3 separate regions of the Homo sapiens genome follow, and all the other regions are linked to region 2. Evidence: fine-mapped expression QTL. A gene starts in region 2. Each other region holds a variant in brackets. All regions are shown on one strand. Distances are between the middles of the regions. Region 1 overlaps LIPK (lipase family member K). Region 2 holds the start of LIPN (lipase family member N). Region 3 overlaps LIPM (lipase family member M).

Evidence for each region. PIP is the estimated chance that this variant, and not a neighbour inherited with it, causes the effect.
Region 1: its variant is fine-mapped to the expression of LIPN in sun-exposed skin (GTEx, PIP 0.99).
Region 3: its variant is fine-mapped to the expression of LIPN in memory regulatory T cells (Schmiedel 2018, PIP 0.95).

What each region holds. Positions count from the first base shown.
Region 1 is chr10:88,723,985-88,732,173 of GRCh38, reverse strand. LIPK (lipase family member K) reads right to left here. Exons shown (of 10, transcript NM_001080518.2): 2 at 7,526-7,641; 3 at 5,262-5,379; 4 at 993-1,191. The coding sequence starts at 7,630. It also overlaps the pseudogene KRT8P38. Among named protein-coding and RNA genes, the nearest start is that of LIPK, 22 kb to the right of the region's middle. The variant T/C (reference allele first, on the strand shown) is at 4,412.
Region 2 is chr10:88,756,214-88,764,402 of GRCh38, reverse strand. LIPN (lipase family member N) reads right to left here and starts at 4,383. Exons shown (of 10, transcript NM_001102469.2): 1 at 4,297-4,383; 2 at 2,890-3,005; 3 at 2,098-2,215. The coding sequence starts at 2,997. RefSeq lists an enhancer at 4,029-5,228.
Region 3 is chr10:88,806,684-88,814,872 of GRCh38, reverse strand. It overlaps LIPM (lipase family member M), which reads right to left. Exons shown (of 9, transcript NM_001128215.1): 2 at 6,458-6,575; 3 at 1,578-1,776; 4 at 234-343. Among named protein-coding and RNA genes, the nearest start is that of LIPM, 8.0 kb to the right of the region's middle. The variant G/TG (reference allele first, on the strand shown) is at 4,363.

The DNA of each region.
Region 1 (8,189 bases), 32 kb after region 2:
CAAAAAGAAGGAATAACAAATTAGAAAAGTCATCTCATTGTTAGGCCTAGAACATTTAAACACGTTCAGTGAAGACATAAATACTTTGATTTTGTTAAATATAAGACTAGTGTCGATATATGATATTAGGCAACTATGCAACTTTTAAGGGTGTCACCTTGATTGCAAGTCAACATTTTTAAGAAACTGAAATCAGAAAAATTTGATTTGTCGAGGCCTACTGATGCTTTTCTTGCAAGGCTAGTCGTATTCACTTAATTCTATAACAGATTTACCAAGCTCCTCTGAAAAGAGCAATTACCTGGAATGCTTATCTAAAGGAGAGAATAATAAAGCAAACAGATTTGCAGACCTCAGCCCAGACTGACTGAATCAGAATTTCCTGGGAAGAGACCCAGTAATCTGCATATTTAACAATGACCTCAGTTACTTCTGATCCTATGTATAGTTTAAGAAATACTTACCTAGGGAATTTTCTAGTCATTTGCAAGGGTGCAATGGACTATGGCATAGAATTAGGAAATCCCAGTGGTTTCCAGAAAGAAGGCAGGCAACGAGGCCAAGGAACACAGGATTTTCATGACCTCCAAGGCATGGTTCTTAGCTCCTATGCCAGTGCATCAGTTTGCTCCTGTGACCGGGTAGGCGTGGCTTCTGAAGTAGACAGCACCCTCAGGCGCTGCTGCTGGCAGCACTGTTGCTTAGCTATTCTGTAATCAGGCTTTCTTCTTACTTCCCCCAGAACATACACACACACACTCACTCACACGCAGACACCAGGACGGAGGCAGGAGTTCTAAAACAGCCATGCAATAATAATGGCAGTTCTTTAGAGCCTGTGAAGAAAGTTTGGGTAGAGAAAGAAAGGTTTGTTTCCTTCTTGTGGATTCCATTGGGTGCATTTGGACACAAAACAGGAAAAAAATCACTAGGTGTTCATACATATGCATGAGGAAAGTACACATTTTATTCATTAATAGGTTTCTCTTTACCTGAAGGCCCAGTATTCCGGTGATTTCGGTGACAATTTAAGGTGTTTTCTGGACCAAGTGTTTCCTCGGCTGTTCCCCAACCACACGTCATAACCACTATCTGCCAGAAGGAAAGCCAAACTGTTGTTGGGCAGGTTGCAAATCCAGTTACTGGCAGATGCAATTAAGCCATGCTGCAAATACACAGCAGGCTTTGGAGCTGCAAAACACAGGCAACAAGAATTTCATATTTGAACTTTCTCAGTGTCTACAAGAAAAATCTCATTCCTGAATTTCTGTAGTATAAAAGAAAGGTTAAGAGATAAAATTTGATGCCAGGCAAACCTGGGATCTAGTCCCTTCTGAGCTACTTACTTGGGTAAGTTATTTAAGTTCTCTGTCTTGTTTTCTCATTTGTAAGGGATTATATACAATGTATTGTATTATGTAAGTGTGGAAGTTAGTTTGCCCTAGTTCAAAATCCCTTCGATACGCATGAACTCCTTTGTGCCTCAGTTAACCTATCTGTATAATGGGAAATAATAATAAATGCTATCTCCTAGGGTATTTATAAGAATTCGATGAGAACTAAAACATGTAAAAGGCTGTCTGGTTGCCAGGCGCGGTGGCTCACGCCTATAATCTCAGCACTTTGGGAGCTGAGGCGGGCAGATCACGAGGTCAGGAGATCGAGGCCATCCTGGCTAACACAGTGAAACCCCATCTCTACTAAAAAATACAAAAAAACTAGCCGGGCATGGTGGCGGGCGTTGTAGTCCCAGCTACTCGGGAGGCTGAGGCAGGAAAATGGCGTGAACCCGGGAGGCGGAGCTTGCAGTGAGCCGAGATCGCCACACTGCACTCCAGCCTGGGCGACAGAGCAAGACTCCGTCTCAAAACAAAATAAAACAAAACAAAAAAAAGCTGTCTGGCACAGTAAATATATATTAGCTCTATTACTGTTACTTATATTAATAGCATTATATTTTTCAAGATTCATCTGATTAAAAACTTAAATTTTTTTCAAAATAATAAAAACAATAATTAAAATGCCATTTGTTGAATGCTCATTGAATGTCAAGCACTATGCTAAGTTTTATAGGCACTGCTTCATTTCATTTGAATTGTTAGAAAGCAAAAAACAAGGTTGTAAGTAGAAATTTACAGTTTAAAATTGTTAATATGATACAAAAATCCTATTCCCAATGTAAAATAGGAACATTTCAACTAAAAAAGAGAAAGGAAAAAGAAAGAAGTGAGAAAGTGTGGAAAAAGAGAGAAGAGAGGGAAGAAGTGACTAGACTTTTCCTGTGCTTTATAAGTGGTTTGTGATGCTGTGTTGTTATCTCAGGACTCTACCTCAGGTCACTTTTGGAACTAGAGTGGCTTCCTGAGAGTGAGTAAGTTGTACTCTCAGAGAGCCTTCAGCCATCGGGACCAAGGAACTAAGAGTCTATGTCCATTTTTCCACCATTTGGAATAGAGGGAAAGAAGAGGTGTTACTAACTCTGCCAAAGTTAAGTACCATTAAATAGTCAAGTACCATCAGGCCTCTTTGATCTGAGTCTGAGACAAATCACAGGGATCTCAGATTAGAAAAAGAGTTTCTCATTGTACAGCTTTTTGTCTCATGAATTTTGGCAGCTACGTGATAGAAATGACAAGAGAAAAGTTTGGAGAGACTTAAAAGTTCTCTTGAGTATTTACAAAGTTATTTGTAATTATGGAGTTATTTTGGGAAATAATTGGCTCTGTAAAGCCAGCAACACCATTATATCTTCCTCTCTTTTTAGAAATCTAGAGTTTTTCTTTAAATAAATAGTCTTTCTGATATTGAGAAGTTTTGTTATTCGACATGTCAAAGTATAAAATGAACTAAGAAGAGAGAGAAGAAAGCAAGAGCAAATAGTTTCTGGGAAATGAATTGCTCTTCCCCCGCCCCCCCCCCCCAACAGATAGCCACCTGCATTGCGGGGAGCTAGAATTGGCTCTTTAATGAAGTTTAAGCACAGAACTGATAGGAACTAATAGGGTCTTTTTTGCAGAGATTCCTGAGGATACCTGAGGCTCTGTTTCAGAAAAAAAAAATAGACTTGTTTTTTCAGCTGGAGGCAAGGGCAAGAGGTGTACCCTAGGCAGCAAACTATCCCTGTAGGGTGGGCTGAGAACTAGGGCTGAGCGTCAGATGGGTCTCCAGTTGCCCATGCTCCCCTGCACAGCTGCCTCCCCAGCAGGATGTGGGACAGCCACAGGAAGGGTAAGCTAAGAAGTGCTGCCGTGGACATTCACTTGGGCAGGACATCAGAGGACTCGGATACCAGCTTCCCATTGCAGGGGTCAATCTTCTTCACAACTATGGCCCTGCAGGAGCTGGTGCGGCTGAAAGAGCCGGAGTCCCCGCCACAGTCAAAGCTGGACTGGAAGAAGTCCAGGCCATAGCTGAGGGCAGAGCTTGTGAGGCCGAGCCCAGCCCACCTGGGTAGCCACTGCTTGTCTTCCTATGCATACACCTGCTCTGCGTCCCAGACTCCAGCGGGCTCTCCTCGCCCTCCAGCAGCTTCCTGTAGGTGGCGCTCTCGATGCCCAAGGCCAGCTTGACATTCATCAGCTCCAGGTTCCGGTGAAGCTACGGCGCCCTCTCCTGTTTGGTCCGCTATAGGGCGGCCTCCAGCTCTGCAGGCTCAGCGTTGAGTCCTTAATGGCGGACTCCCCACGCTGCTCTGCGTTCTCTGGCCTTTGAGGCCTTCAGTCTCATGGTGGAGCCGGCTGATGTTTCGGTTCACCTGGAAGATCCTCTTCCTGCGACACAGCTCATTCTCAGCCTTCCCAGCCAAGGCCTGCAGCACCTCATACTCGACCTGGTGGTGCATGCTCTCGGCCTTGGCCCAGCTGCGGCTGGCGATCTCCTGGTACTGGGCGGAGACGTCGAGATGATGCCATCCATGTCCAGGACTCGGCTGTTGTCCAAGGATAGGACCAGAGATGTGGCCGAGATCTGGGACTGCAGCTCACGGATCTTCTCTTCTCCTGGGGCAGCCCTTTTAGGCGAGACTACTTATTCTACGTTGTTCATGTAAGCTTTAACCACATCCTTCTTGATGAGGAAAATTCATTCTCCATCTCTATATGCTTGTTGATCTCATCCTGGTACTTACTCTTGAAGTCCTCCACCAGCCCCTGCATGTTGTCAAGCTCCACCTCCACCTTCAGCTTCTGGTCCCATGTGTCCAGCTGCCGCAGAAAGTTGTTGATGCAGCTCTCCATGTTGTCCACGTTCTCCCAGCTGTCTTCTGCTGCTGCAGGCTCCACATGGTCTCCAGCATCTTGTTCTGCTGCTCCAGGAACCACACTTTGTCAATGAAGGAGGCAAACTTGTTCAGGGTCTTGATCTGCTTCTTCTCCTGGGTGTTCACAGCATGGATGTTGGGATCCACCTCCAC[T/C]TTTAGGGAGCTCAGCAGACTCTGGGTCACAGTGAAAATTGTGATGCCTCCCATATCACCAGCCCCAGCATAGACCTCACCCAGACCCATGCTGGTGCCCAGGCCACCCAGAAAGCTGCTACCTACCTGGAAGAAGCTTGAGGTTCTGATACAAGCACTGGGTATGCTCCTGTACCAACAGCTGCTGAAGGCGGAGTTCTGGGTCACCCTGATGGACATGGTGGAGGCTGGAGTGAAGGTAGGTAGGCTAAACTAGATGGTGATTTGACAAGCTGAGATGCTGTTGCTAGGTGGGAGCTAATAGGGTAATATTTACTTTAAACCATGAAATCACACAGACTTGGGTCCAGAACTGACTACAAATAGTTTAATACCAGTGAGGAGGCATTGTAGTAGTTGAAGACATTATATCCAAACCTGGATTTGAAAGATTATTGAAGCTGAAAGTTGTCAGATTAGGGAGAAATTTAGAAGGCAAAATTGATAGATGGCGATGATAGGTTGCATGTAGAAGGTGAGGGAGAGTTGGTATCAAGAATAACCCCTAGATTTCTGATTTTCAAAACGGGACAGAGGTATCACTAGGGTAAGAACACGATGTGTTTTTGTGTTTGCTTGGTAGGAAGACAAAGTCATGAAGAAAAGGAGTGACCAGATAAACAGTGTATGTAAAAGTGACTTAAAACTTCAAAGTTACACAAATTAAACAGAGAGATGGGGGGCGATAATTTTTCTCCTTTAATGGAAAGGACTGTTAAGAATTTCAGAACAAAAACTGCTTGACTTCTCCCAGGACATCTAAGTACCTCTGCTTTAAGTATTTTTCCTTTCATAACAAAATAAATAATACCTGTCCTCCCTGGGCATCCTCTTCCATGTGGAATCCTATAAATTCCAAGGATATAACCATCTTTTGTTGTAACATCATACTCTTCATAAGGATAACCCCAGTAAGAAATAATCTGGCTCTAAAAAGAGGAAAGGAAATATATACCTTCATGTTATAATCTCTTAATTTTTACACATGAATTACAACATAGTACTTTATTTGTCTGTTTGTTTGTTTGTTTGAGACGGGTCTCACTGTGTTCCCTGGGCTGGAGTGCAGTGGTGTGATCTTGGCTCACTGCAGCCTTCGCCTCCTCGGCTCAAGCTATCCTCCCACCTCAGTCTTCCAAGTAGCTGGAACTAAAGGCACCTGTCCCAATGGCCAGCTACATTTTTTGTATGTTTTTGTAGAGATGGGGTTTCACCATGTTGCCCAGGCTGGTCTTAAACTCCTCAGCTCAAGGCATTCGTTCCCCTGCCTTAGCCTCCCAAAGTGCTAGGATTATAGGTGTGAGCCTCCCTGCCTGGCCACAATGTAGTACTTTAAATTGCACCTACTGTTTATCACTCTATGTGCCGTGACGGCATGTAATATTCCTATGAGGATAATTTAAGAGGGATTTCTAGGAGTTACATAAAGAGGCATAGGTAAGTCTGGGTGGGGTGACCCTACATTCTTGTTTGCTCAGGACACTCTGGTTTTGCCTGCTGGCCTGGTATTATTAAAGCACCCTAGTTTGCTTTGATGAAAATTATATGGTCATCTAATGAGGGAAACCACAGGGAATTGTGGAGTACCCTGTGGCTAATAACAAGTGATCTATTACCAAACAGACTTGAAAGAAGAGGGGAGGAAGCAGTTACTGGAAGCCCGAAGGAGAAAGTTAAGCTGAGATAACCAAATTGAGGAAGACAGCTTGTCTAAGTTGACTTCACAGGGAGGAAGCCAGGGCAATAAAAAATGAAACCTTACTGGCCTATTTCTTTCCATCTCCTGCTCACCATTTCCATTGGCTGAATTGAACTGAAAACCAAAAGTCAAGGGAGCTTGTTGACCTGTCCTTACAGTTCAGCCTCTTGGGCAGAGAGAAAGGTGTTAAAGAACAGAGAGTGAGCCTAGAGGGGTCAGAAAAGATACCCCACCTGCAGATATACAAAGAAGAGGGGAATTAGTGATTACTGGTATCTTCTGCGTAGAGGTTTACATTCCTTTTCTCATTAAACTTATAAGAGGCCTTTGAGATGGAATTGTACCATTTACAGTTGAGAGAACTTATGTTCAGGTAGATTAACAATTTATCCAAGATTATATACCAGGAAGAGATAAAAAGATTAATGCTAAAGTAAGTTTAACTCCAAAGCTTATGCCTTAATCAAAGGATTATGCATTTTCCCAAGTCAGACACAGAGATGCATGTATAAATTGTGGGCTACACAGAGCAATGGTGAAGAGCCCAGGCTCTGGAGACAGACTGTGACATTGTGAGGATTATATGTAATATGTGTAGAATAATGCCTAACATAAATGCTTTATAGATGATTGTTCTTATCATTATAGAAGGATTAAAAGCTAAAAATCCCTCATGCTAGAGAGAGAAAAATTATGTGAGTTCAACAGTTTGGTAGGAGATCAAGGGTACTTGCTGGATACTTTGGAGAGAGGAACAAGAAGAGATACTAATGAAAAAAAACTTTGGCAGTTTCGTTCTTTTTATGGTTCTGATACAACTTGCGTATGGTACAGGACAGCAATTGTGCGCCGTTTATATAGGAGAATGGAGTATATTATCTGAATGAATTCTGTAGTAGATATTTGTCATTTGGCCTTTTTTTCTTTGCCTAACACTATTCCATTCCACTTCTGATATGAATTCCTGAATGTTAAAATACTTTGGTAATAAACAACAGAAACCAACACTGGCTTATGAAACCAAAAAAGCATATTGGGATAGCTCACAAAATCAAAGAAACTGCTCTATCAAAAATCTCGGGGAAAACTCAAAGGTACTCTATAGAGATCATCTGTATTAAGTCATGAAACTTCTCTTTAGGAAGCCACCACTGGATGGTAGTTCAAACCACCAGGAGATGGACTATTACTGCCCCAACTTGGGTCAGATCTTTTAATTCTTGGATTAGTTAGCCATATCAAGAAACAGGAGAGGAAGCACAGACTTAGTCACTGGAGGAATTGCTGAAAACTAAGAAGGCACACCAGTTGTATCTAAAATGCTGAAATATGAATAATTCCTTATTTTAGCATTTTTTTCTGAATAAATGACTTACAATATTCATATTAGCTTCAGGGTTTGCATTGTTTCCTTTCTTGTCATAACCATACATAGATCCAAGAAGAAGCATCCAGCATGCTGCTGCTAAAAGCTGCCACATTTGGGATCTGCCTAGGAAAGGAAATTTAATATATTTGTCATCAAAGATAAATTCTACGAAGTGAAATTTGGTGTAATCTTTTTATAACACTGCTATGAGAGAGAGCAGAAACATACTTCTAGGCTGTGCTTTAACCAGTAGAATACTGAATTATACAACATTCATTCCATGAAAAATCTAAAATGACTTTTTAGTAAGAAAAGAAAAGGCACAAGGAAAGAAGAAAAGAGGGAATGAATGGAAAGGAACAGAGAAACCAATCAATCAAGTTTCCAGTAGATAACTGGACAAAAGAGGGAATAGATAATGTGTAGAAAAGAAATATAATGGCCAATAAATTAATCAAAGCACATTTGGTATCTCTAGTTACTAGATTGGTTGGTACTTTTTTCTGATGGTAGAGTTAATCATTGGCAAAACCTTTATGAAAAAAATTTGTTAACATGTCTTGTAAATTTAAAAGTATTCATAACCTTCACTCAGTAATTTTGTTTTCAGGAATCTATCTAAAAGAAAAATGACGTGTATATAAACACTGGGTATAAAATTATTTCTTATT
Region 2 (8,189 bases):
GGGAAAGGGTAAGATGAGAGAGGGAGAAAGAGAAAGAGAGAGAGAGAAAGAGTGAGAGTAATTTATGTTAAATAGAGCATGTCGGAAACATCACAGACACACACACATACACACATGGTAAAACAAAAACTGTTTTCACTTTTCCCTTGTCAATAGTATAGAGCATTATAATCAGGTAACTTCAGTTTCTTGAGCACATATTTTTGTACCTGGTGCTATGTTGACGTATTTATATGTATTAGCTTACTAAATTCTTGCAACAACTCTATAAACTAGCTGCTATTTTGAGAAACCTCATTTTGTAGATATGGAAACAAAACTTTATGTAGTTAAGTAACTTTCCCAGAGGGCCACCCAGATAAGAAGGCCAGAGCAGGGACTCAAACCCAGTTCTTTTTATGTCAAAGTCTGTCCTGATAACTACTGTGCTCTATGTATTTGTATATACAAATTTCCTGGGTGTGGTTTACAAAGACACAAAATTTATCATGCTTACTCAAGTCCTATAGCTCTTCCAGGGAGGAAGAGGAGGTGAGTGTAAATGGACACTGATTAGTTCCTCACCAAATTTCTATTCAAATCCCCATCCTCTGTCCAGTGGAGAGCATTTAAAAACTACAATAATATGCTCAGCTCAGTGTCCCTCTGCCAACTTCCAGATTTCTGAGGGAGAGAGAGCATTCAGGGAGATCCAAAGAACCAGGGTGGAAGGTCAAGTAAGGCACTATAATTTAATGACTAAGAGCACAGGCTCTGGAGCCAGCATGCCTGGGCTTAAATTCTGGTCTGTCAGCTTGCTATTTGTGGACTTTAGGCCTCTTAACATAACCGGTTGTGCCTTAATTTCATCATTTGTGAAATGGTGACTATTAGTGGTACCCATCTCATATTGTTGATGAGAAGTTTAACTGATATAAAGTATTTAGAACATTACATCTAATGAATGATCTTTAATTCTAAATCTTTCCAAAATTATCTCTCCTTAAGCCAAATCTTTCCCATAAAAGTTTTCTCCTTTTATATTTCACAGCTCCTTCACACATGTGCCTGGGATTGCCAGATTTAGCAAAAAATAAAAACAAAAGTAAGCAAAAAGTTCCAGGATGCTCTACAAAATTTTATAAATAGTGATAATAGTGAATAAATAATGACTTTTTAGTATTATCTTAAAATGAGACTTATACAAAATTATTTGTTGTTTATCTGACCTTCAAATTTAACTGGGTGTTTCATATTTTAACTAGTAAAACTACTCATATCTCACTCTCATTTTTCATTCTGAAACTGGAGATAAAAGAGGGAGAGAATGTCAAACATGACCTCAGCTGCTCCTTAATATGTGTGGTGGGAAAAAAGATGCAAAATGAACACGGTAAGCAGCTGCCAATAAATTATTTGCTATTGAACCATTGCAGATATTTTGGTTATTCTTATCATTTCTACTTCAGAGGATTTGTAGTTAAATTTTCCCTTTTAAGGAGTATCATTCCCCTGCTATGGCATGGCTGGCTCCTCATTCTAGAATTCAAGCCTTATTGACACCATACTCTTTCATTCTATGAACCGTCTGTCCCTTAGATCAAAGTGTATGTGGATGTTAAGGTTTTCAGTCCTGGAAAACTTTTCAGAAATGCGTTGTCATTTAACTAGATTGTTTTTTATCCTGCAGAGGGAGGCCCCTTAATTTTAGTGGGAGCAGGAGAGGTTCTTCTTGGGTGCCCCAGAGTCAATTTCATACAACCTAGAAAATCTCCTTCTGACAATGAGAGGATCCATTTTCCTGGGACAAAGCAATTTTCCACATGATAAATCAGTAATGAGGTGACAAAATGCAGGCTCTGCCTTTCTGTTTACACCCTAACAAGTACCTCTGGTTGCAGTTAGCAAGATCAGTCTTGCTGTTTGTATTTTTAGGTTCCTGTCTGTCTTCAGAGAATTATCAGGCAAAGAGTGAGCCTCCCTGATAACTATTTAAAGACTAATCCAATAATTCAAACCAATTTTGATAAACTCTGTTGATGCATATCTAGCATTAAATTCCTCCTGAGAAGCAGGAGGTCAATGCAGTCCCCTTTTCAGGAGAGACATATCTTGTACCTGTGCTCCTAGCATGTGTTCGCCCATAAGGAATTCTGTTGACAAGGAGTATATACCCATCTTCAGTGGTGACTTCATACTCTTCACTGGGGTAGCCATTGTAGATGATGATTTCACTCTGCCCAGTAAAAATACAGTCGTTAGTGGAACTTCTCCAAAGGATATAAAAAGGAATCAAAACAAACCATCTGTTGTGTGCTTATTAGGGTGAATTATCTGAAATTTGTAGCACCAGGTAACTGTAAAATTAATAAATAAAGTCTTAATACAAAATAAGTAGAATTTTAAAAAATATCTACTATTGGCTAATATTTTGGGGGGTTGGGGGAAAATTTAGCATTGACCCATTCTTTCTGACAAAGCTATATTATCAAGTCAATTGTCTTTTGAGACCCCTCTTGCTTTAAAAGTAATAGAACTATAGATCAATAGAAGGCAATCATGTACATCAACAAATAGCTTGATATTCTTAAAACATAAATTCAAAAGAGGAGGTTCTATCTATAGATAGATAGATAGATAGATAAATAGATAGATAGATACATAGATAGATAGATAGATAGATAGATAGATAGATAGATAGATAGCACAATAGCACAATTTGGTTTTCATTACCGGACAGTATTTGTTTTTCAGACAAAGATCTAACTAGCTTGACTCTTGCAGAGGTTAAAAACCATCTACATTTTATCTGTTTTATCAGAGATTTTCTGTTACAACAGGACCTTTCGTAACCTCATACTCCATTAGTCCTGCTTTATTTGATGTTCTTCACAGTTTTCCATGACTTACAGTATTCATCCACACCTCAGGATTCACTTCATTTTCCAAATCAAGGAATCCACCAGCATTTAAAGTTCCACAGATCAAACAAGTTGTTGTTAAAAGCAGCCACATCATAGAAATGCCTGGCATAAAACATTTAATATTCACAGATTAATTTTAACTATCAATGTTGATTAATGAAATAAAATGATTAGTGAAATTATTAATGATTAATGAAAACTTGAATAACACCGAAGGCAGATAATGTATAAAAAGGAATAAATACAGTGAACTAACTTGGAGCACTATTAATCTATTTTTTCATGTAGAAGTTGTCTTGATTATAATCCAGTTCCTAAAATGAAATAAATTTAATCAAGTATGGAGGCATTTTTGGTCTTATTTTAATCAAGGTTGAATTGCTTTAAGTCTTTGTTTGCCTACAATTTGACAAAATATCTAAAGATTCAGAGGACAGGTTTTCATACCATGGCCAAGTAAAAAGTGGAGGTATCCCCTAGTTAAGCCCAGTATCCCACAAAGTAAACAAGAAAAATGGATCAATAAAACTTTAACCAAACACAAAAGCTTATGATTAGTTTCTAGTGATGTGATTATTTCTCACGTGGCACCCAAAGGCAAATTTTGCGTATTTCAATGTGCAGTCTCACTTCCTTGCCATGGTTTAAAAGTATGTCTATTCAAAGGTAGACCAACACTATAACACTAAACAGCGTGCTCATCATATAAGTGCTACAGTCAAATGGTCTAAATTTGAAATCCAGCCTCACCACAGAAGAAGATGTCTAACCTCAGGCAAGTGTTTTAGTAGCTTTGTCTCTTGGTTTCCTTGTTAGTAAAATTAGGACAATAATGTAACCTATCTCATAGGGTTATAGTGAGGATTAAGTCATATATAACATTTAGTGCAGTGTAAGTTCTTAATAAATGCTTTCACTATTTTTCTTATAAAAGTGAGCAAGAGATAAATATTACAGATAATTCACTATAACAAAGTAATATTTAACTTCTAGAAATGCAGAGTTTACTTCTGAAGCTAAATAGCTTTGCATACATTAGCTATCTGGTTGAAGATCATCTTATATCTGCAAATATTATGAAACTTTTCAAATTGTATGAAACTAATAATAAGCTACTGAGTCCCCTTATGGCAGGCATTACTCTAAATAGTTCACGTATGTTATTTAAGCTCTGAAAATCTCCCTAATTTTGGTACTATTATTATCCTCATTTTATCAATTAAAAAAACAAAGGCTTAGAGAGATTTAAGACCTGCTCAAGGTCACAGAGCCAAGAGGTGAGAGATCTAGGATGGACACTCAGGCAGCCTCACTGCAGAGCTCTTGCACCTGACTGCCAGTGCAACTGGCACCTTCCAACCTGCCTCCTGGTTATGATAGATCTTCATCTTACCTAGTTAGATGAGCTTCACCTGCTCACAAGGACTCCTTATTGATGAGGAACTTCTGAACTTTTGCTTTTGACATCAGGCTGAAGAGTAAGAGATGATTACAGTGACAGTTAGAAGCTAGAGAGATGAGAAACAGGAAGCTTGTGAAAAGGAGGAAGCTTTAGACTGAGACACACACCCAAGGCGTGTCCCTGACACACCAAAGGCCATGATGCACTTGCAGGTTGGGAAATAGTGGTCTACATGATGCAAAATAACCAGTTTGACGGAATCCTTCATGTTTCCACTGAGTATCTGTCATTGTTGGGAAGACTTAGCAACATTTTCAAACCAGTGTGTCAAACAGGGAAGTAGAACATACTCAAGATCTTAATGGACAATCAGAGACAATAGTATCTCCCTTCCCCATTTGATCCTTCATGAGGATCAAACGGAGTAACATATATCAAGGAACTAGTGCCAACCATGCAGTGCGTAGGGATGTGCGTGACTGTAACTCATTTGAGAAGATGAGGCAACCCTGACTCCTAAATCCTGAAACCAGAAGGAATTTGGAACTAGCAGTATGGCAGAGGAAACTAATTCACATGCCAAAGGGATTTGGGTTGCTGTCAACTTTGGCACAGTAACCTTTGTTTACACCAGTGGTTAAAGGCAGAAATGGAGGCCAAATAACGACAATTTACCTCTAAGCCCCACATGAGATACCAGATAATGGAGGCACACGTGCCTCAGTTTTCTGCTTCACTTTGTATGCCTGTGGAGCTTAAGCCGTAACTGAATCTCTTTCATCTCCCAGCATGAAGAAGGGTAGGGAAAACTAAGTTGCTACCCAGCATAATATAGAAGTTTCAGTTCTATTAGTTTGGATTTATCCTCAAATCCTTTCAAAAAAAATGATATTTTGTGTTGTCCAAATCCTAAGATCTGTTTTAGTGGAGTGGGAAATTTCATGCCAATTAAACAAATGTGGAGTAAAAGGAAGTGTTCAGCTAGTCAGAACAGGGAAAAGTTATGTACCACTCCTTAATCATTTAGTCTTGATGAAAGACTCAAGCATGTTTTGCCCTGATTGATAGTATGATGGCATAGGTATGTGGATTTTCCTGGAATTTCTCATGGTTTTTAACTTCAAAAACAATCCTTTCTAACAAAACTTTATTGGACTCTTTAGAAAGTTCTAGAAGTGCTATGTTATTATTATTAATATTGATTTGTTGCCTTGACTTAATATGGAAATAGCACAAATATAGTTCAATTTCACAGATCTTTACAGATTGTAGGCTAGCTCAAATCTTAAAAGAGTTTCTACATCATTGACTTATATTCCCTCCTCAACTTCGAGTTATTTGAATAATCTGGACAATTCCTGTAATTCTTTTGTTTGTGCAGAAACAAAGTAATGTCAAAGAAATAAAGCTGAAACTTTCTCACAATGCTCCATCACTCTTCCTATATAAGCTTGCTATTTTAATAAGTATTTAATATATTACTGAGTATTATATATTTTTCTGTATTATATATTGTTCTACAATATTTAATAATATATTCTGTAATATATATTTTCTATATAATAAAAGTATATAGAAAATATATAATGTTACAATATTTCTATTATATATTTCAATACTCATACTGAAATTAATTTAAATGAATACATTAAAACTTGTTCCTTGGCCCTGTGGGATACAAAATGGTAGCCCCTACTCTCTAGAAGCTCAAATTTTTCCTTTTTTTTTTTTTTAATAAAATTAGATGATAGTGGAGCTAGAAAGGGGTAACCTTTCAGAAGGCCTGTGGTATTTTTGAAATCTCAGTCCAAGAATCATATTACGGCCTAAGCTAACTGCTTAATGATGGTTACTCATTCAATTGTGAAGATGGTGGAACACACATGGTTGAACATAGATCCTTGACTTTGGGATCTACCTGTAAAAATGATTATTATTTTTCTTCCAATGTCCTATTCAAAACACATTTCCTATTACAGTGTGGTTATCTTTTTGTTTGTTGGATTGCTTCTTTCTCCTCAAAGGCTGCTTTTTCAAATTTTCTCTTGAAAATAACTCAAAGTTAAAAAGGTTAGGCCATAACCAGCAAAATGGAAACTAGTGAGAATTTTGAAAAATAAATAATTTGAACCTCACACTTTTGAGACAAATTTCACCCTACAGTAAAAAGACTGTGCATGAACAAGAACCTGGATTTTGTCTCTTGCTCACTAGATAATTTATCTAATTTATTTTGCATCCTAAAATTCAAACAGTGCTCAATAGAACCATAAGTGTCCATAAGTCTATATGTGTGTGTGTAAAATTATTAATTAGCACACTTTTGCTTAAGAGAAAATACTTTATATTTTAAAATTTCATCTCTTTACTCAAAGCGAAGTTGGGAATGTTCATAATTACTACAAGAAACAGTGTTGTTTTTGAGATTACATATTAGCGTAGAACATGCTTTCTTTTAGTGTTAGTGAAAATGAATCTCTGTTTCAGTGACATCTATACTACATCCATCTTTAAAAACAATAATGGCTATAATAGAAGAGAGAAGTGACAAAAAGATCTATCAATCATAGTTAACTAAAATATTAAAGATTTTTGAAGAGGCCATAATAAGTTTATTGAACACACATCCATCTCAACTCAAAATGTTCAAAGGAAAGATCACTTACATTTAAAGAGAAATTATTACCAAGAGTGCCGGCAGCTGTCCTTGATAACGTCCATGTTCCGGAGTGACACGATCAGGACCATCCGTGTTTGTGACAAAGGTCAAATCCTTGTGAGAATGAAGAGGAAGGGCCATACCATTGAATATGAGGAAAATTATATCATTTTCCTGCCCCAGGCGGATCTACCTTCCTCGCTTCCTGCTTAATGTGCAGCATGTATGTGTGGTATTCTCTAGAGCTCATTTTGTATTTGAATTTCTGTAGGAGGTATATTCAAATGTAGATTCTTTAAAAAAAAAAAGACACAGGACACTTAGCTAGACATTCAAGTTGGATCTAGTTTTAATTTGTCTCATCTAATTTGCAAGAGTAAATAAATGGTGATTGGAATGTGCAAAGAGGTAACATTGTTGTTTTGATATATGCTCCTGTTTTTTTTTCCTGAGTTAATGTTCTATTTTGAGTTACTATTAAATCACCTTCAAATCTCACCAGCACCCCTGAAAATAGATAAATTGTTTTTAGAGTTTCTTAATTTCATTCCTCCTCTAATCACCATCATCATCAAAAATTTTTGCGGACTGAGTGAATGAGTGATTGAATAGATGATTCTGGAAGTCCAGAGAATGCAGCTTAGTTACTGAAGAATACTAATAATGTTATTATAAATAATAATAGTGAATTATTTATTATTTATTAAGTACATAGTATGTGTCAGGTATTTTACTTTGATATGCTACCAACTTGGCTGTAAATTCCACTGGCTTTCTTTGCTGTTACAAAGGAAATTTTTCTTAACATTACCTACTAAATTTAATAGAAAACAGGAAATTCACGGGAAAAATTCAATCTTGTCCTGTTTTTTAACTAAATTGGAAGAGATACATTGCTATTTACAGATTGCAAACCACACGAATACAATTTAAAAATTGCTACCTGATAGCATTTTTTCTCTTTTTCAGCCTCCAAATTATTCTTAAACCTAGTAACCACTATAGCACAATCTGATATCTTTTACACAGTCTGTATTTTTTCATTTTTCCATACATTTAAAAAATCTTATAAATGCAGAGATATTCCATTTTCCTAGAAATAACCAGAATTTTCAGGGGATAGTTACCTTACTCTTTTCACTATCTGAGCATGGTCCAATAGAAATATAATGTGAATTAGGTATTTAATTTAAATTTTCTAATGGCCACATTTTTAAAAAGTATA
Region 3 (8,189 bases), 50 kb before region 2:
TTTGAGAAAATATTTATATTGAGAGATATGCTATATCTAGACACATATAGCACAGAGATATGCTATATCTAGCACATATGTCTATATGCTAGACACATTGCTGGGGACTACATGATTCTGAAGATGAAAAGAGCAGGTCTGAAGGAAGCACAAGGTGACAGATTTCAGGGATAGCTAGTGTCGTATGCTCACATTTCTTCCGAGTATACAAACCTGCTTTTCTTTGAACCTACCCATGGTGGTGCCCTGTGAATAGCCGACATAATAGATCTTTTCCTGGCCCGTTTTCTGCAAAATAAAGTTTATCACTGCAGGAAGGTCAAACCTAGCCATCTCATCATAACTACAAGGGGAAAAGACAAAGTTATATGAAAAATTATAATCAGAAACAAACAAAAGCTCCCCCCGACACCAGGTTTACAAACAAGCCCTTGAGTTGTCAACTCTGACAGCTTGTTACCGTGTCCCTCACAACACTCAGAATGGATTTCTTTCAAACCTATGAAGCATGGGTGCCTCTGGAGTCACAGGCTGTCAGCAAACTGCTGTTTTCTCTAGATGTTATCACGTAGCAATAACTATCTTCAGTGAATATTTACTGAGCACATAACGCAACTGCTAGTGGAAGTGTCCTGTTCTACTGTTAAGCAGAACCGCACAGGGCTCTGCAGATTCATTTACAGGAATAGTTGTAAAGATGCTGAAGTGGTCCGTCTCTGATAGCCATAAAAAGTGAGTTGAACATCAATAGGTAATTTAAATAAAAGAGTTAAAAATCTTTTGTAAGAACATGAGAGGTAAGTCAAATCGATGGTCCCTAGGTGATATGGTTAGGCCTTGTGTTCCCACTCAAATCTCATCTTGAATTGTAATCCCCATAATCCCTGTAATCCCCATGTGTCAAGGGAGAGACCAGGTGGAGGTAGTTGAATCATGGGAGTGGTTTCCCCTGTGCTGTTCTCGTGATAGTGAGTTCTCATAAGATCTGATTGTTTTATAAAGGGCTCTTCCCCCTTTTGCTCAGCACTTCTTGCTGCAGCCTTGTGAAAAGGGTGCCTTGCTTCCCCTTCACCTTCTGCCATGATTGTAAGTTTCCTGAGGCCTCCCCAGCCCCGCTGAACTGTGAGTAAATTAAAACCCTTTACTTTATAAATTACTTAGTCTCGGGCAGTTCTTTACAGCAGTGTGAAAACGGACTAACACACTAGGCTTAATAGTTTCCTTTCTTTTTTTTTAATGCTGCCTGGTCTCTTTTCCTTCTGGAGTACTATTATACTATTACCCGCCCCTCCCCATGAGGAAATTGATCTACACTTCTCTCATTCCAATCTTAGTCACCTGACACCAACCACCATTCTCACCCTATTAGCTAGACCCACCTTCTACATGGGGAACTCAGCATTCCTCACTACTTCAACCAAGGAATCACTAGTTAATTAAGAAAACTGGGGGATATCATGTTAAGATAATGATGACTCAACCAAAATAAATCAACCAAATACTAGAAGCCGTAATTTTTTACCCATTTTTTTTGAAAGACAGACATGTCTACCTCTGTTCTCGAGATTATCATATACCTGAAAGCCCAGAACTCATCTTGGTCTATGGAGAGTGTCTTGTGTTTTCGAGACCAGGCGTTTCCCCTGCTGTTCCCCATCCACACGTCAAAACCAGCATCTGCCAGAATGAAGCCCAGGCTATTGTTGGGCAGGTTGGAAATCCAGTTGCTAGCACCTCCAACTAGGCCATGCTGCAGTAACACCACAGGCCTGGAACCTGCAAAAAGAGAAAATTTCAACTGTATGAAATGTTCTCTCCCTTTCTTGTTGTCCAGTAATGAATAAGAGCTTTCAAATCAAACAAACCTGTGTTCAGATCTTGATTCAGCTGCTTGCTAGCTTAGTTATCTTGGCCAATTACTTGACCTTTGGTGTGTGCCTTGATTTCCTCATCAGTAAAATAAGATTTTTGTTATGCTTTAATAAAATAGAGCACAAGAAATGGATGGCATGTTGCCCGGCAGAAAAAGAATCTATAAAGTTTAACTTCTGTTCTTTGTTTTGTGTAATTATTATCAGACTTGTCTGGGCTCTTCAGAAATATTGAAAGTGCCCCAGTAGATGGTATAGTATGATTATTAAGGTATATGTATACCACATATATATAATGGTTTAGTGATTAAGAGACCTTCATGTCAAAAGGACCCACAAGCCAGCTTGAAGGAGCTCCCACTGTTCAAATACAGAAATATTGAGCATCAAAATAATTATAGTAAATAATTATATCCCATTGAATAAATTAAGAATGTTCAAGTCCATATAGAGACCAATAAATAAATGAACAAATAAATAATTGGAAGGAAAAGCTCTTATTTACAGAATGCCAATTAGTAAATACAAAACATTGATTTACAGTACAATACCCACTAACAAATTCAGAAAGATTGAAATTATCAGTGAATGTTAAAATTAGTGAGTAAAATTTAAAGACAGAATACTACATATCCTGAAATTATCTTCCCATAACTTATTTGTTAATTACAAAAGGAAAAATACTAACTTTAGAAAAACCTGGCAGATACCACCTTAATGAAGTCATTAAAGTTATTATCAGTATTGGAACAAGCCAACATTATTTGCTTCATAATATGATGAACCAAGAAAGATATAACTTCACTTTTGGGTTATTCCTGCCAAAAACATATAACTTGAATCACACCATGAAGAAACATCAGATAAAGCAAATTAAATCCCTGTCCAAAACTCTTCAAAAATGCAAAAATCAAAAAGACAAAACCTTAGGAATTGTTTGTTTATGAAGGAGACAGACTTGGTGGCCAAATGTATAGTAAATGATCCTGGATTAGATTATGGACCAGAGGAGGGAAAACAGCTGTAAAGGACTTTGGGACAATTGACAAAATTTGGATATAGACTACGAATTAAACACTAATGTCAATCAATGTTTGTTTTCTAACTTTGATAAAGGTATTGCAGTTATAGAAGAGAATACTCTTGTTCTTAGAAAATACTCACTGAAGTACTTAGGGGCAAATAGGCATGATGTATGTCTCAAATTTACCATCAAAGGTTTTGGAAAAAGTATTAAGATACACGTAAGAGATGGGGGAGAGATAATGATAAAATAAATGGGGTAAAACTGTAAACAGTTGGTAAATCAGGGCAAAGGGCATATGGAAGTCCCTTGTACTATTCCCAGGACTTTTCCATAAATTGGAAATTATATCAAAATAAAGAATTATAAGAATATCAGTAGAGAATAGAGAAGGATGAAGGGTTTTAAGAATTCTAATATGTTCAATAAATTAAGGCATATATATTATTTTGACATTAGCAAATTTGGCTGAAAGATTAATAAGGTGCTGCCCTATTAGGAGTAAAAAATATGTCATGCCCTCAACAGGACTTGTGAGAATTAAATCAAATCATGAATGCAATATCCACACCTCAGTATTGGCTCAGAAGAAGCCTGCAGTAAAAAACAGCCTTATTGCTTTCATTATTATTGTTATAATTCTCTAAAGCAAGTGACTTTCTGAGCTTCAGTGTTCTCATTAGCAAAATGAGGACAATTGCCCACCTCACAGGGTTTTGGCAGGGGAGGGTTAAATGCGGTACTGTGCATTAAGCACTCAGCATGCTGCCCGACCTCAGATCAGATGGGTAGCTCTTGTTGTTATTGCTATAAACGGGCACCAAACACACATGCAGTCTCCCTGTAGGACAAAAGCCTTCTACACCAAACTCATCCAGCATCTTGACAGTCTTCATGAATTCCATCTGCCTCATTTTGTCTCTCAAGGGAGAGAACGTGTGGGTCACTGTGGACTGTGAGTGAAGGGCCAGGAGGAAGGAACTCAGTGTTATTTTAGATTTTCCTTGAAAATCTAATCTGGTCATTTAGTTCATCCTCTTAGTTCTCAGGGAGGTGACCTCAGCTGTGTTAACACAGGACAATCAAACCAAGGTGATCAATGCTCCCCTTGAGAGTCCGGGCATTTCCCATGGTTAAGGTCACCTTGGTTCTACTTAGTCATATAGTTTGTTCTTGTGATTCCCCTAACAAGAGGAATGGCTCATTTATATCATTTCAAACATCCCCTAGGTCTTCTATTTAATTTACACCCAGCAGGTAAGTGTGTAAGGGCTACACTTACACAGCTGTCATTTCTGAGGATGGCCCAGCCTATTTTCTCTCTTGATATTGAAGCCAACTAAGATTCTTTGATAAAGATAAAAAGGCCGCTACCACAAGCTATAAGCTTTACAGTAAACATTTTTCAGTTGTTTTCAATAAGAATTTCACTGGCTTTCTTGGTTGGTGAATTTTTTTTTTTTTTTT[G/TG]ATATGGGAGATTGCCTCTGAAGAGGCACATGCCAACAACATTGGCCACTAGAGGGAAGTATTCTGCACGGACTGGAACAAGGAGGCAGATTCCTTGAACCTCAAACACCTGGGCAATGTGTGAACAGTCTGAATCAACAGGATGTAAGAAAACAAATTCCATCCATAGAATAGGGGCTGCAGGTGACCCCCATGCTTAGTAATTGCTAAGTCACTCGACTGCTTGGAAGAACTGTGCTTTTACCACTCCCCTGAGATTCGTGGGGCTGTGTCCCCAGGCTATTCATTTATTTATACAAAATCTATAATTCATCCCGCAAATATTTATTAGCACCAGAATGTGCTCAGCACTCATTTAGTTACTGGTTCTAGCCTTGAGCAAAACAAATGATGTCTCTGCTCTCACTGAGTTTACACTCTGACTGGGGGGAGACAGACAATAGACAAACATGCAAATATCTATTATATCAGGTGATGGTAAGTGCTATATGGAAAAGTAAGCAGGGTAAGGGGCTAGAACTCAATAGGTAGCAAAGAGCTGCAACTTTGAATAGGGTGGCCAGGGAAGAACTCTGATAAAGTTGGCTGAAAGAAGGGCCAAGGCAAGCTGCATAGACATCTGATGAAACAGTGGTCCAGAGGGAGAAATTTAAGTTCAAAGACACTAAGGCAGGTGCACGCTAGACATGTATAAGGCGCAGCTGTGCAGCTAGTGAGAAAAAAAAAGGTGGTTTCAAAAAGCTACACAAGTACAAATTGGAGTAAAACAGAACCCCAACGTTTCTTTACACCAAAGCCCAATAGCATTTGTCCAGCATTTTCTGGTCCTAGTTAAGAACACGGGCTATAATGGCAGAGAGACAGATTTGATTTGAGTGCAGGTTTTACAACTCACTAGCAAGCACTAGCACAGACGTTTTGGGCAAGTTGCTTAACATATGTGAGTAGCAGTTTCTTAGGGTAATTGTGAAAATTAAATGAGACTAATACAAATAAAGCACTTATCAGTGTATCTGGCATATCAAAATAACACAAGAAATTATATTACCTATACACAAGAAAGACAATATAGTTGCTACTATAAACCTACTGCTAGAGTATTAAAAAGAATCCAGCCAAATAGAAATGAAAAATAGGCATATTTTAGTAATGAAAACAAATGTTTAAAAAATAACAATAGCTGAAAATCCCACATACAAAAGGGTGGAATTGTATGAACTATGGAGACATGTATCAAACATTTAAAATGTATGTATAGCCAGGCGCGGTGGCTCATGCCTGTAATCCCAGCACTTTGGGAGGTGGAGGCGGGTGGATCACCTGAGGTCGGGAGTTCAAGACCAGCCTGACCAACATGGAGAAACTCTGTCTCTACCAAAAATACAAAAATTAGCCAGGTGTGGTGGTGTATGCCTGTAATCCCAGCTACTTGGGAGGCTGAAGCAGGAGAATTGCTTGAACCCAGGAGGCGGAGGTTGCGGTGAGCTGAGATCCTACCACTGCACTCCAGCCTGGGCAACAAGTGCAAAACTCCACCTCAAAAATAAAATAAAATAAAATAAAATAAAATAAAATAAAATAAAATAAAATAAAATAAAATGTATGTATAGAACTTTCGTTTTTCAAAAGCCCTTAGTAAAAAGCTAGGCAACATCTTAAATATTTTAAGTGCTCTTTAGATGAGGAATACAGAGTATACAGGAGCGGGTACCAGGTGCCATAAAGAAGCTTGAATTCTTCATAATCAGAGGCTGATATGGTCTGTTCAAGGAATTGTCAGTAAATATTTTAGAATGTCTACATAGGAGGAGTTTTGGGGAATGGGTTAAGCGCTAAAATAAGTCAAGAAATGAACTTTTCTTGAAGGAGTGTTTTGAAAAGCAAACACTGTATGTTTAATTGAGATAATTGGTGGCAGTGGGGACGGACACGGTGGTGGTGATGGAGACTATGGGGGAACTGACACCATCCTTTGACCTGAACAATGGACCTCACTCTGCACTAAGAACCCAGGCTCTCTTCTACATTCAAATCACAAGGAAATCGTGACTGCAGAGAAGACTGCTGTGTTGCGGTGACATGGGGTGACCCACACCTGTCTTCTTAGGTTGCACTAGGCCTCGAGGAATCCTGTTAACAGAAAGGATATACCCATCTTCAGTTGCGACTTCATATTCCTCACAGGGATAGCCTTGATGTTGGATGATTTCACTCTATGGAAAAAGCACAATTTCTTTTAGGTTCAGTTCTCTGTGGCCATATTCTCAATGATCCAAAAGTAAGAGTAGATTCCTTGATGCTGTAAAACACAGTGAAAGTCCTTGCTTTTCCCTAGCTAATCATGTTACCTTAGAAAAATCTGCTAACCCTCTCTAGTCCTTACTTTCTTTGTCTTAATATGGAAACCGGAATAGAATTATGGTTCTCAAAGTATGGGCCTTGGGACAAAGGCATCAGCATCACTTGGACTAATCTGTTAGATATGCAAATTCCAACCAAACCTACTGAATCAGGAACTCAGAGGACTGGGCCCAGCAGTTTGTGTCTCAAGCTCTTTAGGGAATTTTGATGTACCCTAATGTTTGAGAACCACTGGATCAGAACATTGATTCCAAAACCTCGTTGTGCATCAGAATCTTCTGGGCATTGAAACATACAGAGTCTTGAGCCCACTTCAGGTTACAGATAAGATGGTTCTAAAGCAGCCAGTGGGGCACCTGTTCCAGGACAACTTATGAGCATTCCTGGGCCATGCATTTCCTAAGGTTCTTTCCAGTTCTAAAACCACAGACTCAAGAGCATTGATTCCTAACATTTTCAGGTTAAAGTTCCCTCTGTGAATTTGAGGAGAACTATAAAAATGGATATACAATGGATACAAAAACATGGTTTTGCATTCAATTTCAGGAGTTTCAGATATCTTGTTGCCTACATACGAACCCCTGGTTAAGAATCCTTACTCTATACAGTAGTTACATGTAGACATTCTCTGGAAAATTTGTAGCTGCAAATATCTTCTAAGCATCCTCACTATTCTTGCCCATTGTTATCACTCAGAGAGAAGGAGAGAACCATTTGCATCAGGGGCTGCTTTAAAAAAGAGCAAGAGAGAAGGCCAAACATCACATGCCCAGGTAGAATATAGGGCAAAAACAAAGCATAGTCATTAGGAGAAAGCTCCTGGGTCCCACTGTTTGAGTTTTAACACTGGTTCTAACACTATTACATAAACTAGCTGTATAATCTTGAGAAATTTAGTTAAACTGCTCCTATGCTTCAGTTCATGCATCTGTAAATTAGGAATTCTAATGGTTCATACTCCATGGGACTGTTGCAATAAATGCAAAAAGATAATGCACATATAACACTAACTGTAATTCCCAGCACATAGTAGGAACTCAATAAGCATTAACTACCACTATAATTAAAACTCAATTAACCGAATATTATGGAATGCAGTGTATATGTGTGCATGTATGTGTGTGAGACACCATTGTATACTTAACCTTAAAAAAATGTATAGGCCGGGCACAGTGGCTCACACCTGTAATCCCAGCACTTTGGGAGGTTGAGGTGGGTGGATCACAAGGTCAGGAGATCGAGACCATCCTGGCCAACATGGTGAAACACCATCTCTACTAAAATAATAATAAAAAAAATTAGCCGGGCGTGGTGGTGCATGCCTATAGTCCTAGCTACTTGGGAGGCTGAGGAAGAGGAATTGCTTGAATCTGGGAGGCGGAGGTTACAGTGAGCCAAGATCGCGCCACTGCACTCCAACCTGGTGACAGAGGGAGACTCCATCTCAAAGAAAAAAAAATTTATAG